Regions from separate parts of the Homo sapiens genome. Here region 1 is linked to region 2. The links come from fine-mapping of genetic effects on gene expression. A gene starts in region 2. The other region holds a variant in brackets. All regions are shown on one strand. Distances are from middle to middle.

What was found.
Region 1: its variant is fine-mapped to the expression of GINM1 in blood mononuclear cells (TOPMed, PIP 0.98).

The regions. Positions count from the first base shown.
Region 1 is chr6:149,593,004-149,596,029 of GRCh38, forward strand. It overlaps KATNA1 (katanin catalytic subunit A1), which reads right to left. Exons shown (of 11, transcript NM_007044.4): 11 at 1,870-2,231. The coding sequence ends at 2,033. It overlaps LOC124901526 (small nucleolar RNA SNORA2/SNORA34 family), which reads left to right and starts at 1,622; the gene lies at 1,622-1,756. It also overlaps the pseudogene RPS18P9. The variant T/C (reference allele first, on the strand shown) is at 1,515.
Region 2 is chr6:149,564,606-149,567,361 of GRCh38, forward strand. GINM1 (glycosylated integral membrane protein 1) reads left to right here and starts at 1,770. Exons shown (of 8, transcript NM_138785.5): 1 at 1,770-1,929. The coding sequence starts at 1,810. RefSeq lists enhancers at 937-1,066, 2,317-2,366 and a silencer at 1,497-2,046.

The DNA of each region.
Region 1 (3,026 bases), 29 kb after region 2:
GAATTACAGGCGTGAGCCACCATGCCCGGCCATGGTTGGTTTTTTTGAGACCACTTTATATTTAGGCCAAATAGGTATGTGTGTGATGGGGGTGGAGAGGATGACAAGTAGAATGAAGGAGTGATGTTTCACTTTGCCAGACTTTAAATTAATTACATTGCATGGAGCTCTATTATGCAATACTCTCTCCATACTGCTGAAAAAAATAATCTGCAACTTACAATTTGATCCTTGAGTTACCAACCAGTAACACTTGTTCTTTACACCCTTTCTCATTCCCTAAGTCATTAGAAAGCACCAGTTCTAACTCCAAATGATGACATGGTCTTATTTTATCTATTAACCATAAGCTTACAGATTCTAGTGAAGAAAAAACTTTAGGAGGCTACATGGTCTATTGGAGAGTGTAGGCTCTGCAGTCAGAAGATCCCTACCCAGGCTTCTGTCTTTCTCAGTAAGACTTGGGACCACAGCAAGGTCCGCAATCTCCTGAGGCTCTGTTTTCTATGGTTGGGATAACATGGTAAGTTATTTTCTTCTAAGTAGTCACACATGGAAATCTTATCTAAAATTTTATACCATTAACTTTTATTTCACTTATTAACTCATACCATTAATACTTTACTTTAGCTATGTTTGGTATGCATGAGTTAATGAGTGATTAGAGTACTATGAGCAGCACAGGTTTAGAAATGCCTATTTGCCTATAGTGCAGCCTCTTACATAGGCAAAATAAAAGTCAAGTAAGAATTTTATTTTATTTTTTTAAAATGCAAAGTAAAATGTGTCTTTAAAACTCTCCCAGGAGGTGAAGGGAAGCTACCATAACACCAGGTGGGAAGGAAGACATACTGGGCTTGGCTCATGCTTTAATTAGCTACTGTGTAAAAATGTTCAGGGATTTTCAGTTATCCGCTGGCACCCAGAGGCAATGGGTAAGGTTAACTGGAGCTAGAGCCAATATTTTTTTCTTCCTAGAAGGAGTAACAGCAGCAAACAGTAGGAGAGAAGATGCCAAGTTAGAAGTGCATATAGCTCTCTTCCACAGGAGGCCTACATGCCGCCACTTGTGCTGCCGCCATGTCTCTAGTGATCCCTGAAAAGTCCCAGCATATTTTGCCGAGTAGTCAACACCAACATTGATGGGTGGCGGAAAATGGCCTTTGCCATCACTGCCGTTAAGGGTGTGGGCCGAAGATATGCTCATGTGGTGTTGAGGAAAGCAGACACTGACCTCACCAAGAGGGCGGGAGAACTCACTGAGGATGAGGTGGAACATGTGATCACCATTATGCAGAATCCACACTAGTACAAGATGCCAGCCTGGTTCTTGAACAGACAGAAGGATGTAAAGGATGGAAAATATAGCCAGGTCCTAGCCAATGGTCTGGACAACAAGCTCTGTGAAGACCTGGAGCGACTGAAAAAGATTCGGGCCCGTAGAGGGCTGCGTCACTTCTGGGGCCTTCGTGTCCGAGGCCAGCACACCAAGACCACAGGCTGCCGTGGCCGCA[T/C]CGTGGGTGTGTCTAAGAAGAAGTAAGTCTGTAGGCCTTGTCTGTTAATAAATAGTTTATATACCAAAAAAAAAAAAAAAAAAAAGTGCATATAAAGTCAGCTTTCCTAGGCCCTGAATCAAGAAACGTGATGGTTTGCCATTGTAGCTATTGGTTTCAAACAAGAGCCAAGATTGATGTCTTTCTTATGGTCTGTTGGCTAATCCCAGTATGAATGGCCAGTTCAGCTAGAAGAAACAAACAGTCTTGAAAAAAATAGAAAAAGCAAAGAAAAAAAAGACAGCTTTCCAAGCTAAGTAACATTTGTGGTCAGTGAAATAATAATAGAAATCTAGTAATGCTAAAGTAAAACAAATTTTCAGCTTAAAAATATTGCCTTTATTCAGAATCATAAGGGTTTTTTTAAAAAAATCTTACCATTATGAAAGTTAAAAAAAATATAGCACTCAGTACAATGAATTACTGCATTTAATATTCAAACACTTAAGGCACATTTCTCACAGTTTACATGTGAGAATTTAGCATGATCCAAACTCAAATATCCATTTCTCGTATCTTTCAATGTCTGCAGCAGACACTGACTTAGAAACCTTTTTTAAAGCCATCTCGAAATCCTCCATAGTTGTAGGCATGTGCATTTCTTCTTTGGAAAGATTTCGGATTTCCTCTGGAGTCAAACCTTCAATGCGCCTTCTCATTGCCATCAAGGACGCATCCCTAGGTTTTAAGTTAAAAACAACAACAACACACACAATGTTACTTTGGTTAAATGAAAACCTGTTAATAGAAAAATTTTCAATTGATCTGTTGTAGCATTCTCTAATTATATTACATATATATGTAGTATTGTATAGAAACTTATTGGAATACAAAGCCTGTTGTGATTGATTTTTAAGCAGTTAAATCTTCTGTAATGAAAAAGGATGCTAATTTAAATAATTAATACTGAATATAAAATCCCAGAAAAAGTAAAAGTGGGGTTAAAGCTAGCAATTTGAATTTCATTATAACTATTCAATAAAATGAAGAATAAGCATCACAGAGTCAGAAGAGAAGAGAAACTGTTAACAAGAAAATTAAATATTTTCTCCATGTAGAGGAAAAGCTAGGTAAGTTCAGGGTTTCTCCTTTTCTCATTTGTGTTAAAAAAAAAAAACAAAACTTCAGATTCAAACAGCTCTTGCCTTTTACCAAGTTTTATCCTTAATAGCAGCCACCATTTATGCAAAGGGATAGCAATAGAGCTGTTTGATGTATACACTTTAGCTTTAATCCTCAGAACCCTGTGTGGTATGCTCACTTTAGAAAGGAGGAAACGAGCGCAGTCAAGCCCCTGGTTAATTAAGTGTCTCTACTAATACTTAGATTAGGACAAAACCTACTTGAACCAGCTGGATTAAAGACATTCTTTTTTTCTTTTTACTGCTATTCTGTCACATTTAGGATAAGTTCACTGAGAATGAGACTGTATTCTGTGCATATGCCAAGTCAATATATTTCACAGTCATTTCG
Region 2 (2,756 bases):
GAAAGGCTTTGTAAGAAAACAGAGAGCCTCAACTTTACCTATTATCTTTTCATATAGACGTACTTTGTAACCTTATATTACTAATTCAAATTATACAGATCCACATGTCATGTTTTCTGACTTCCAGATTCTTTTTTTTTTTTTTGGAGACGGAGTCTCGCTCCACCGCGCAGGCTGGAGTGCAATGGCGCGATCTTGGCTCACTGCAACCTTCGCCTCCTGGGTTCAAGCGATTCTCCTGCCTCAGCCTCCCTAGTAGCTGGAATTACAGGTGCGTGCCAGTATGCCTGGATAATTTTTGTATTTTTAGTAGAGATGGGGTTTCACCATGTTGGCCAGGCTATTCTCGAACTCCTGACCTCAAGTGATCCACCCGCCTCGGCCTCCTAAAGTGTTGGGATTACAGGCGTGAGCCACTGCACCCGGCTTCTAGATTCCTTTTTTTTTTTTTTTTTTTAATAGACTCAGGCGATCCTCCTGCCTGCGTTTGCTGCATAGCTGGGAGTACAGGCACAAATGACCACGCCCATCTCCAAATTCATTTTTAATTCCAGCAGTAGGAAAAAAAGGAAAAGGCCAAGTTTGCAGATGGAACCCAGAAGTGTGTGGGGCTTCGCTGTGAAATCACTTGTAGCTTAACAATGGCGTGGGGAATCTCAGAGTAAGCCCGGAGTTAGTTGAAAGGAGTCTTTAGCCAAAACGTTTATAATTTATTCTGGGGCGGGGCCGGGGGAGGGGGCGGTGGCGGTCAGCAGGCCTGTGGGAGGAGGGTGTTCAAAGGAGTAAAGGGGGCTCAAAGAGAGAAATAGATTCTTGTTTCCTTTTTCATGTCAAAAGTTTTATTTCATGTCAAAAGTTTTATTTCAAAGGAAGACTAAATATTACTCTTATTCTGCCTGAATGGCCAAGTTTCCAAGTTTTTCTCAATCAACATGCAATCCTGTTAATCTAAAATGCTTGAATTTCTTGCTACTCTGCTTTACAGGGTTCCGTAACTTTTTTTTTTTTTTAAATCTGCAAGGTGGAAGAAAAGTCTAACACTTTCACTTTAGAGTTACGATACTGACCAAAAAGGCACTGACAGCCCAGGTGCGCTGGCTTCCTTCCAGCTGAGCGCTGTCCCCGCGCCGCCTCCAGGGGTCGGCAGAATGCTGAACAGTAAGCATGGCGCATCCTCAACCTTGGCCCCACAATGAATCACCCGAGAAAATTAAAAAACCACCAGGGCCCGAGCCGCAGCCCAGGCTGGAAAGTGGGGTGTTCAGGAAGACCCCAGTACTTTTTAAAGCTGCCCGGGAGAGTCCCACGTGCAGCCAAGGGTGGGGAATTACCCACTTAATAAAAACTTCCCCTGTAAATGCGATGTTTCATTTTTAATGTATAACAGTTTTCTGAAATATTACCGTTGTTTTCATCGTATAGGTACATGTACATGTGCACACACAGACACATGCATGTGTGTAAATACTAATTTTAAAAATAATGGTTACGAGGACATTTACATCGCTCCAGTTGGAGTCCTGTCCAATCCTGAGGGCGGGTCTAATGAGGGGCCGTACCTTCCAAGATTTCACTCCGCCCCTCGACGCCGCGCGGCGCTGCGCGTGCGCAAACGCCTTTCCCTGGCGAGCCGGATCTCGGAGCGTCCCCGCGCCTCTCCGCGGCCGCCCGGGGAGGGGAGGGCCCGTCCCGCCCCTCCCCGTCTCTCCCCGCCCCTCCCCGTCCCTCCCGCCGAAGCTCCGTCCCGCCCGCGGGCCGGCTCCGCCCTCACCTCCCGGCCGCGGCTGCCCTCTGCCCGGGTTGTCCAAGATGGAGGGCGCTCCACCGGGGTCGCTCGCCCTCCGGCTCCTGCTGTTCGTGGCGCTACCCGCCTCCGGCTGGCTGACGACGGGCGCCCCCGAGCCGCCGCCGCTGTCCGGAGCCCCACAGGTAGGGCAGGGCGGGCCTGGCTGGCCGCTTTACGACTCCGACTCTCCGGGAGGCCCGGGCTGTCCACAGTGACGCTTCCCACATCCCACCGGCGGGCAGGGGCGGGGGTCCGGGCCCCCGAAGGAGGTGTGGGGAGAAGCACCCCAGGAAATGGGGGCGGCGTGGGAGGCCGAGGTAAGAGGAAAGGGACCCACTGGGGCTGCGTCGCTGTGAGTGAGCCTCGAGCCACTCCACACCGACTCTCCGGCGGCCCAAGCCGGCGCGCGACCTGACGGGGCTTTGCCGTCGAAGCGCGCGGTTGCCGGTGATCAGGCCTTCGTAATGGCGCCTTCCCGGGGTAGAGCCAGCGCTTGGGCAAGGAATGTTTGTGTGCTCGGGAAGTGTGGAAGTTGCCCACTTCGCGCATTTCCAGGCCACTTGTGCCTGCTCGGCCTGCGATCGCGAGGGTCCGCCGTTCCGAGGCTGCGGGGCTCCGCCGGGCTCAGGTGGGCAGAGGGAGAGACCTGGCCCTCGCGCGACGTAATGTTTTTGTCGGATGTTGGAGGAGAAGTTCTCACGGCGGGGCGCGATCGGCGGTGTCCGCATCCCCTGGGGACTCAGCCCGGCCTCTGGGGGCGGGGCCCAGCAGTCCGGGTTGGAGAGTCCTGCAGGTGCTTCTGATGCCAGCTGAGGTGGGAGAATCGAGGCATCCTAACATTAAAACGTGGCTGATGCTCACCATTCCTGCCGTAGAGTCGTGCCTACCTAGGCCAGTATCAGCCTTTTTTCAGTAGAATGGTAGGGAAAAGTTTGAATATTTTAAAGAGCAAGTGTTCTGAGAATGACAA